Linked DNA regions of Homo sapiens: region 1 is linked to region 2. Evidence: fine-mapped expression QTL. A gene starts in region 2. The other region holds a variant in brackets. All regions are shown on one strand. Distances are between the middles of the regions. Region 1 overlaps SP110 (SP110 nuclear body protein). Region 2 holds the start of SP110 (SP110 nuclear body protein).

Region 1 (5,000 bases), 50 kb before region 2:
AATTATGTAAAAAAAAACCTGAATCTCATCATTTTGCAACCTCTGATGATATCACGGATTTAGGTATTGCTAAAACCATCAGGTGATAGATGATCAGGCTGATAACACGTGCACCTGCTGCCAACCTTAACATAAAAAATAATACTAAATTCCCCTGTGAAGCCTGCATGTGCCCCAAAACCCCCAAATCAAAACAAACCCCTCAAAACCTGAGTTAAAGCAAGCTTCTAGATCTAACTTCTAGCTTACAAAAAATGAGAGGAAGAGAGGACTATACCACTAAGAAAATGCAACCAGAAAATTCCAGATTGCAAAAAATGTAATAGGACCAAAACCCTGAGTTCTTCAATAAATACATGACAATTTATAGCTTAAAAGAGACATAGGGACAGGAGAGCCAAATGCAGTGTGTGGAACTTGTTTAGATCCTGATTTGAACAAATCAACTCTAAAAAGACTTATGAGACAGTGGGGAGAATGTGAACTATGATGGGGTATCTGATGGTATTAAGGAAGTATTAATTTTTTTTTTTTTTAGTGTAGATATAGACTTTTAAAGGTAAAAAGAAAGAATAAAGATGGAGGGTGTGATAATCCTATGAAGTGTCTGGGTTTGGGTCCTGAGGGCAGCCAATTACATCCCAGACTCACTGGCAATCAACAGTCCAAGCCAGGGTCCCATCAGCTGAATCCTGAGGTGGGGATGCTTCAGTCTTTACAGAACAGGGTCAAGGAAGAGTCCAGAAACCGCCGTCATTGGCTTCATGAAAACCGAGCACGTCTTTGAGATCTTTTTCAAATTCTGCCTCTAAGTCAAGTCCTACCTGGCCAAAGTCAGAAGCCTGAAAGAGAAAAAAGCAAACAAACACATTGAAGGATGAAGGATTACAGCCATCAAATCACTCATACTTTTTTTTGTGTTTTTGTTTTTGAGTCAGGGTCTTTCCCCGTCACCCAGGCTGTGGTGCAGTGGCACCGTCATGGCTCACTGCAGCCTTGAATTCCTGGGCTCATGTGATCCTCCCACCTCAGCTCCTGAGAAGCTGAAACTACAGGCACATGCCACTATGCCCAAAGTTTTAAAACATTTTTTTCTCTTTCAGAGATCGGGGTGAGGAGGCCTTGCTATGTTGCTCAGGCTGGTCTCAAACTCCTGGCCTCAGATGATTCCCTCACCTCGGACTCCCAAAAAGCTGGGATTACAGATGTGAGTCACCATGCCCAGCCTCACTCTTATTTTTTTAGGAGCCCAGCAGTAAGGCAGAATGGATGGGGAGATGCTGCTACTAAAATGTTGAAAAGCATGAGACTCCAGCTGGTTGTTAATTTCCACCTGACAGGCGATTTAGACTGAAGGGTTAGTTTTGATCATGGCAAATCTGAGCATGATGCAAAATAGCTTAACAATTTTTGTAAATGCATTTCTTGGAAGCCCACTCGCTGAGGAAGGATGACCCTCTGTTCTCCAGGACTACGGATATGCCAGGCACTGAGTGGCTCTCTGGTCAACCCTTTCTCCCTGCAGCTCCATGAATGGGTACCAGTTTACAATCTGTGGTTTGTGAACATGCCAACTCCTGGCATGGAAGAAGGGAAGGAAGCTGGGTGGAGATGAAAATCTTCCTTAGGTACCTCCCAAGAAATATCTGTACAAGTGAGGATAAAAATCAGGAAAAACCAAAGTTACAAATGTCTGGGATTGCAGGATAGCTCAACCAGCTGTCCCTCCCTAGTAAAGGAGGATGAAACCAACATTGGATCTGAAGGCAATTCCAGATGTTTGAGTCCAATGAGAAATTTATGTGTAAAAATATGCAAGCCTGATTATCCAGGAAGTTTAATTGATTTTATGTTGTTTACTTATTTATTTTCATATTTCTGAGGCAGGAAGAACAATGTAGGCATAAACTGCCTTTCCTTCCAGTTTGAACAAAGAGGCTGGATGCCATTTACTGCTCTCGTTGGGAGCGAGCTGCCGATCTGGGAACAGAGCATGGTTTTTTTCAGCTTCTGTTCCAGAGATCCCTCCCCTGTCCTGCTTGCTGTTCTTTTTGCCACTCACTCCTTGCCTCCAGGAATGCCGAGGTGGTTTTTTTTCTGTAATCCTTGTCTTGTTTGAGCTCTCCCCAGGCTGAAACTGAGTGTAATACTTGCAAAATTCTGCTGTCCCAGAAATTAGGGGAAAGTAGAAAAGACGCAAAAAGGAAGCAGGAAATGCTCTTTACCTTGTAAAATGTTTTATGGTTGCGAAACATCAGGCGCATGTCTCGCACAAACCATGCCACCGTGTACATTTCCGTAATCAGCCTTTCCTTAACCAGGTCCAACCACATTGCTTCCTGAAAGGGCTCACCGTAATCTCGAATCTTGGGGACAAAGCCACCAGAGGTGACGTTAGCACAGCTGTCATCACTGGAATGGATCCAACTTAAATACAATCCAAGCCTTCATTTCCAGGGTCATAATGATAATACCATTTGACCTCTTTAAGCCAGCTATTGTTCTAGGCACTAGATAAACTAAATTCTAAGCCAAGTATATGAATATGTAATCTCCACATTTATGGGTACCATAAATAATAATGCCCATTTCATAGATGAGGAAACCGAGGGATGGAGAGGTCAAGGAACCTACCCAAGATGTCTCAGCAAGAAAGTGGTAGAGCTGAGATGGGAACCCACACAGTTTGGCATCTATGACTCTTTTTTTTCTTTTGAGATGGAGTCTTGCTTTGTCACCCAGGCTGGAGTGCAGTGGTGCGATCTTGGCTCACCGCAACCTCTGCTTCCTGGGTTCAAGCGATTCTCCTGCCTCAGCCTCCTGAGTAGCTGGGATTAGAGGTGCCTGCCACCATGCCTGGCTAATTTTGTATTTTTAGTAGAGATGG[G/C]GTTTTGCCATGTTGGCCAAGCTGGTCTCAAACTCCTGACTTCAAGTGATCTGCCCGCCTTGGCCTCCCAAAGTGCTGGGATTACAGGCGTGAGCCGCTGAGCCCAGCTGGCATCTGTGACTCTTAATCTCTAGTAGGAAAGACATTCTTCCTAAAGAGAAGATGAAACAGATACACAGGAGGAGAAGCAACTTGCCCGGTATCCCAGAGCCCGTGAGCAGTGGGGTGGAGTTTGAACCAGGTAGTCCCTCTCCAGAGTGTGCAGCAAAATCCCTGCTGCCCCGCTCCACTGCTGCCACGCTGCCCTTCTCTTCTGTTCTCCAGCTTCCTGAGCAAACTGCAGCACCTGCCAGATCAGCCCCCAAATTTCTCCAAATGCATTTTATGCAAGAGAACCGTAAAATGTGACTTACATTAAATGGGATGCCCGTAAAAAAGGAGCTTTGTGGATGACAGTAGGCCTTCAAGAGGAGGAACTCACATTTCTGTAAAATGTGAAGAGGGCTTGAAAGTGAAATGCAGCTTAGAAACAGTGAAGCCAGGCGAGTGTCTAGACATGCACACGGATGGGGCAGCCAAGCCCAGTCAGCATTCCAGCCATGCTTCCCAAGGCGCACAGGGTGTGTGGGATTTTGTTTAGACTCTGAGTTTGGGCATTAAATCGTCATCCTTTAAAGGGAGACATTGAAGGCTCCCTTTGGTACATTGCCCTGACCCTGTGCCTGTTTGTGCTTCTCGTGTGAGAAGGGAAAAGTATAGGTTTGGGGTTTGCATCCAACTCACCAGCTGGTCCTGAGGCTGCATCTGCCTCTCCAGGGTCTTAGATACATGATGGCACTGTTGGCTTCCTGAAGACCTCTTCATCCTGCAGAAGGTGCAACTCCACAGCATCCTGAGAGGTTGGACACAAGGTGAGCAGAGGGCAAAGCCCCTGGAAATGGCCACCATTCCTGTGGCTGCCACTGTCTTCCCTCAGGAAGGATGGGCTCAGCCATGAGGGTGGGACACCTCCCAGAGTGTCCAAGATCCCCACATGGGGTCTCCAGCATTGGCCCTTCCCTCGCATCAGTGGTAGCGGCAGGCGGGCAGCCTGAGGAAGGTGGTGTCACTGTTAAGTGTGGGCTCTCTTTTCCCTGTCTGAGCTGCTGGGAGCACAAAGGAACCCTGCCTGCCAGGCTTGAGTGTCAGAATCTGGGCTTTCACCTGCAGGGACCTCAGGCCTCCATCAGCCAGGTGAGACTATGGTGAAATGTGTGACAAGCCGTGCTTCCTGTCTTTCCTCAACAGGCACAGAACATAAGCTGGCTTTTCCCGTCCCCTCCTCCTTTTGGACAGGAGTCCCTGCTGTCCAGGGAATAGCATACTAGGAAAGGGCACTTCCAGGGGCAGAAGCAGTGTGGGGCCAAGAGGCTCACTGGCAGTCTCAGAGACCCAGAGAGGCCCAGAGTCTCTGGCACCAGACTGCTCTGCGTCACACCCTCGTCCCCGACGCTCACAGGTCCTGCCCTTTCCATCTGGAGGTGAGTGCTGTGTGCCCGAGGCGGGGCTGCATCCCACTCACCTCTTGGCTTCCACAGGGGGGATGTGACAGTCCTCATGGAAGACTCGTGGACAAGTACCGCAGCAGAGAAGTTGTCCCCCTTGACAGCACACCTCGCATTCATCCGAGTTTTTCCGCTGCAAGGGCAGATAACGTGGGCACCGCTAGGACCATGGAGACCCACGAATGCTGACCCTGTGGGGTTCTAGAACACATCATTTTTGTGTGTGCCAGAGTGGATATCCAAACCCAATTTTTGATGGGGGGAGCTGATGCCACCTCCCTGGGGGAAATTGCAAGACAAATGGCACAACAAGCAGAGAGTCTGGGTGGTGACCGCCGCCACCAGGACTTTTCTTCTCTGGCTGTGGCTTGCCAACAGGTTCTGCTGCGTTTTGAGCTGTGCTGCTGCCTGCTGGCAAGCTTGTGCTTTGAGCTGGGCCACTCTGGGCGCATTTGCTGAGCCCACCAGGCCTCTATTAATAGATCTGACTGACCAAAGTAAGAAATGATGATAACTGGCATTTGGGTGCAGGAGTATGGGAACTGTTGTTCCTGGTGCCTTGCCTAACT
Region 2 (5,486 bases):
AAGTGACTTAACTGACTTGTTCACTGCAACCATTTCATGTCTCAGACATGCGCCTTTTCCCATGCCCATGCAGCATGTATTAAAGATTGGCCATTTATGGACTGTGAGGAGATATCAATAGGTTATAATGGGAAGAAAGTTTACAAATGACATTCTTGACAAATTGTCAAGAAAAGGAAAAGCACTAACAAAACATTCAATCAACTTGACAGTTTTTAACAAACAGAACAAACATGGATTCCACTTTTCCAACTTCATTTTGTGTTGAACAGAAAAGTAAATCGTAATTAACAACTGTTTACAGGGATTTAATCCCAGTGGCAGATTAAGCACCCTAGTCTCTTTCTCCTCATTCCCCAATTTTTTTAACTTGGCAGAAAAAAATACTCATGAAAAGAATAATCCGCAATCGCATAGGAAAACAAGAAAAGATGCCATTGAGAGTCTGTGGTGGTAAAGAAGTCTTGGAAGATAGAGAACAGATAGGAGAGAAATCTACTATCCACAATATGCACAGGGGAAGGAGATAGTGCAAAGATCAGTGCAAAGTCAGAGAAAGGCAGAGTAAACATATACTAAGAAGAGGAAGGGGTCTTGGAGGCTCCTTTTAGAACAATTCATTATACAGCAGCGCTCAGAACAGGAAGTCTAGAGCTTCCTCATTCTTCATCTGTCATGAGTCCCAAAGATGAAAGGGAGGCACAGAGAGGTTTAGTAACTCACCCAAGGTATTCAGTGGCAAAGCAGAGCTTGTCTGACTCTAAAGCCCTGTTTCTTTCTATGCAAGATACTACATCTCATATATGACTGTTCAGATTTTTATTATGTAAAGAGATTTTGCAAACGAATAAGCAAAAGACAAACATCCAACTAGAAAATAAAAAAGCAAAATACATGAACAGAGAGTGATAAAAGAATAAGCCAAATGTGCAATGAATAATACGATAAGCATGTTAACTAGCTAGTAGAAAGCATAAAGAAGGCCAGGCATGGTGGCTCATGCCTGTAATCCCAGCACTTTGGGAGGTTGAGGTGGGCGGATCAGCTGAGGTCAGGAGTTCGAGACCAGCCTGGCCAACATGGTGAAACCCTGTCTCTACTAAAAATACAAAAATTAGCTGGGCGTGGTGGTGCACATCTGTAGTCCCAGTTACTCAGGAGGCTGAGGCAGGAGAATCGCTTGAACCTGGGAGGTGGAGGTTGCAGTGATCTGAGATGGTGCCATTGCACTCCAGCCTGGGTGACAGAGCGAGACTCCGTCTCAGAAAACAACAACAACAAACAACCAAAAAAAGTGTAAATGAAGACAATTTGATAACATATTTGTCTATCAAATTGGCCAAGATAGAAAATAATAGTAATAATCTCAGACACTGTGAGTGGGAAGGTCAACAGGTCCAAATGTTCTGAAGGCTGATTTAGTAATCAGTGTCAAATGTCCTAAAACATGTGCTCCTTTGAATTTCCACTTCTAATAATTTATTTCAAGGAAATAATCATGTATTTAGAGAAAATATATAAAAAGTTCATGATACACTAGAGACGAAATTAAATGTACTCTCATTTTTTTCTTTTCCACCAGCTTCCCAAGTACCTCTAGTCATTTACACAATGGATAACAGATGAGCCGCCTATTGCGGGCACTGAAGGATCAGAGCTTAGGTGAGGGTAGAGGGCAAATCTCGGCTCCATTCACAATAACAGGCTGGACTCTGGCGAAAAAAAGAGGTGTCAGTGTTCCCTCCATGTGCCCCCTTTTAACAGTCTCCTAATAAGTACCACATGTCTGAGCTCTGAGAGAGCCTCAGAGTTTAAATAGTTGAACTCCACCCTGCAGCTGCTGCCGCGAAGTTAACTCTAAGAGCTGCAGTCACCAAGAGCGAAGAATAAAGCAGCAAAGACAGAAACTCACCTGGACTTTGAGTTTGTCGTTCCTGCCCCTTTCCAGGGGCTGGGACAGGGATCACTCCTCAAGATTGGGAGAGTTACAGGGAGATGCTAGCAGGCAAAACAGGAAGTCTGTGCTTTGACAAACGCAGTAAGGGGCCGGGCTTCCGAGAAAAGAAAAGTGAAAGTTTTCGGAGTTTGCCAAGCCGGAAGCTGAAGGCAGGTCGGTGCCTGCAGCCTCTCTCCACCTCCTCATGGGCACTTGTGAGGCTCCCAGGACGTCTTGGCAGTTGGGGTTTGGGGGAGGGCGTGTTGCCAGTTGGGATCAGCCCAGAGAGGGAGGTATGGGAGGAGGAGGCATAAGGGTACAGCCCCAGCGGCAATAGGAACTGGGAACTCAGCGTCCAAATGCTTCCCTAACCACATCTATTTTCCCATGACTTGTCCTCATTCTGTACATTTTAGGTTGATGAAAATGTTCTCAAACTGGATTGTGGTGATGTTTACATAACTGAATGAATTCACTGGAATTTATCCAGTGTGTTATCAAACTCTAACAACACACAAAAAAACAAAGAGAATGTGCCAGAAATGCCTAGAACTTGTCAGGATAAGATTATTACAGGAAGAAATTGAAATGAAAGGGAACCTGCACATGAACTGGAATTGTGCAGAGGCAGGCAGACCTCCAGGCAGAAAAATGGCTGAGAGCTGGGCAGGTAGTTGGGAGCCAGGAGTCTGAGGCAGAACTGGGACCTGCTGATTCCAGAGAGCAGTAACTCAAGGGCTGGCAGGGACACCCCTTCTCATGCCCCTTTTAAAGATCCCTAATGTACATTGACATGTGGGGCCTATGAAAAATCCTAAACTATTGGCCAGGCACAGTGGCTCATGCCTATAATCCCAGGACTTTAGGAGGCCAAGATGGGAGGATTGCTTGAGCCTAGGAGTTTGAGACCAGTCTGGGCAACATAGTGAGACCCCATCTCTACAAAAAATAAAAAAATAAAAAATTAACTGAGTGTGGTGGCATGCACCTTGTAGTCCTAGTTAGTGAGGAGGCTGAGGCTGGAGACTTGCTTGAGCCCAGGAGTTCAAGGCTGCGGTGAGCTATGATTGCACCACTGCACTATAGAAATCTGTGTAACTTTGGGCCAGGCTCGGTGGCTCACGCCTGTAATCCCAGCACTTTGGGAGGCTGAGATGGGTGGATCACAAGGTCAGGAGTTTGAGACCATCCTGGCCAACATGGTGAAACCCCATCTCTACTAAAAATACAAAAATTAGCCAGATGTGGTGGCGGGAACCTGTAATCCCAGCTACTTGGGAGGCTGAGGCAGGAGAATTGCTTGAACCCAGGAGGTGGAGGTTGCAGTGAGCCGAGATCGCACCACTGCACTCCAGCCTGGGTGACAGAGCAAGACTCCATCTCGAAAAAAAAAAAAAAAAAGAATTCTATGTAACTTTGATTAAATCAATAATTCTCAAATGTATTTGACCCACAAGTTCCCCTACCAGGACATCCACAAACTCCTCAGATAAAAGATGGGAGACATGGATCTAAAGTTTAAGAAGCTTTGAAACCAAGGCTAACTGCATAAGAGCAAGCCCTTCTATGCAGGCACAAACAGCATATCCCACCCTAGTATGTACAGAATAGCAGACCCGGCCTTGCGGGTAATGGCTGTGGGTGAAACAGAGGCATGGAAGCCACAGCCAGGAAAAATTCAATGCTAACAGCTGAGGAGAGGGTGCATTGATGCCTCAGCATGCAGTAACATACAGCGCTGTGATGCAGGGGATGGCGGTGGTAAAGGAATTAAGGTTATTTTATGCAAATGTCACATGTCACTTACCTGAAGCCCCTCCCCATCACCTGGAAAGCCCCTTCATGGGCATCTGAGGATCCTGGCAGCAAGAACTTCTTCCTTTAGATCTATTCAGAGATACACCAGGCAAATGCAAAACAAACAAACAAAAGTAAAGCAGGAGTGGGAAAATAAAGTCAATGTCAAATCAGGCAAAAATTGTTACATGAAAAAAAGACAGCTGCGAATGAGGATGAAAGATGTTTATTCTAAGCCATATATGCTTGGCTGGGCACAGTGGCTCAGGCCTGTAGCTTAGCTAGCACTTTGGGAGGCTGAGGCAGGCAGATCACTTGAGGCCAGGAATTCAAGACCAGCCTTGCCAACATGGCAAAATCCCGTCTCTACTAAAAACACAAAAAAATTAGCTGGGCGTGGTGGCACATGCCTGTAATCCGAGCTACTCGGGAGGCTGAGGCATGAGAATCGCTTGAACTCAGGAGCTGGAGGTTGCAGTGAGCTGAGACTGCGCCACAGCAGTTCAGCCTGAGCAACAGAGTGAGATCCCGCCTCAAAAAAAAAAAAAAAAAAATGCATGCTTGAGAACATGGTAATAATGGGAAAACGTCACCTGTTAATTCACATGCTAGTGATTATGTACTGAGATAAATTATACATAATTCTTTTTAGCTCCATTTTATTGAGGTATAAAATTTATTCATTGTAATGTACATTTTACCAAATGTAGTTACTACACCAGTCAAGATGTAGACCATTTCTAGGCCTGGAGAGTCGCTTGTGCCTATAATCCCAGCATTCTGGGAGGTCAAAGCAGGAGGATCGCTTGAGCCCAGGTGTTTGAGACCAGCCTGGACAACAGAGCAAGACCTCGTCTCTACAAAAATACATTTTTTTAAATTAATTGGGCATGTTGGCATACACCTGTGGTCCCCGCTATCAGGGAGACAGAAGTGGGAGAATTGCTTGAGCCCAGGAGGTCCAGTCTCTGGTGAGCAGTGACAGAGTGAGACCCTGTCTCAAAAAAAAAAAAAAAGATACAGACCATTTCTGTTACCCTAGAAAGTTCCCTGTGACCTTTGCAAACAATCCCCTCCTTAAGGCCAGCACCAGGCAACCACTGATCTGCTTTCTATCACCACAGATTAGTTTCGTGTGTATTAAAGTTTTTTTTTTTTTTTTTTTTATCAATGAAGGCACATGGAATGCATTTTTGGTGTATGGCTTTCTTTTCCTCATCATCATGCTTTTGAGATTCATCTCTGTTGTTGTGGGTCAGTAATTTATTCTTCTTTAGCAGGTATGCTAGCCACCAAGATCCTGCTCATCCTGTCTGATCAGCATGATGTCATCAATCAGTCTGACTTTTTTTTTTTTTTTTGAGACAGAGTCACGGTCTGTCTCCAGGCTAGAGTGCTGTGGCGCAATCTTGGCTCACTGCAACCTCCGCCTCCCAGGTTCAAGTGATTCTCTTTCCTCAGCCTCCTGAGTAGCTGGGACTACAGGCACGCATCACCATACCTGGCTAATTTTTGTATTTTTAGTAGAGATGGGGTTTCACCATGTTGGCCAGGATGGTCTTGATCTCCTGACCTCGTGATCTGCCTGCCTCAGCCTCCCGAAGTGCTGGGGTTATAGGCATGAGCCACCATGCCCAGCCCAGTCTGACATTCTATGGGATGTCCAGGTGATCCAGATATCTTTCAACTATATTATGACAAAGGGCAAGTGAGTCAATATAACCTGCCTGGACTGCCTACTTTCTTAACCTAG

Evidence for each region.
Region 1: its variant is fine-mapped to the expression of SP110 in blood mononuclear cells (TOPMed, PIP above 0.99). The same link has a PIP of 0.9 or more in whole blood.

What each region holds. Positions count from the first base shown.
Region 1 is chr2:230,168,396-230,173,395 of GRCh38, forward strand. It overlaps SP110 (SP110 nuclear body protein), which reads right to left. Exons shown (of 19, transcript NM_080424.4): 15 at 4,449-4,564; 16 at 3,671-3,779; 17 at 3,301-3,372; 18 at 2,226-2,366; 19 at 1-842. The coding sequence ends at 729. Among named protein-coding and RNA genes, the nearest start is that of SP110, 49 kb to the right of the region's middle. The variant G/C (reference allele first, on the strand shown) is at 2,888.
Region 2 is chr2:230,217,962-230,223,447 of GRCh38, forward strand. SP110 (SP110 nuclear body protein) reads right to left here and starts at 2,023. Exons shown (of 19, transcript NM_080424.4): 1 at 1,913-2,023. It also overlaps a transcript of SP140 not described here. RefSeq lists an enhancer at 1,752-2,231 and a silencer at 1,949-2,135.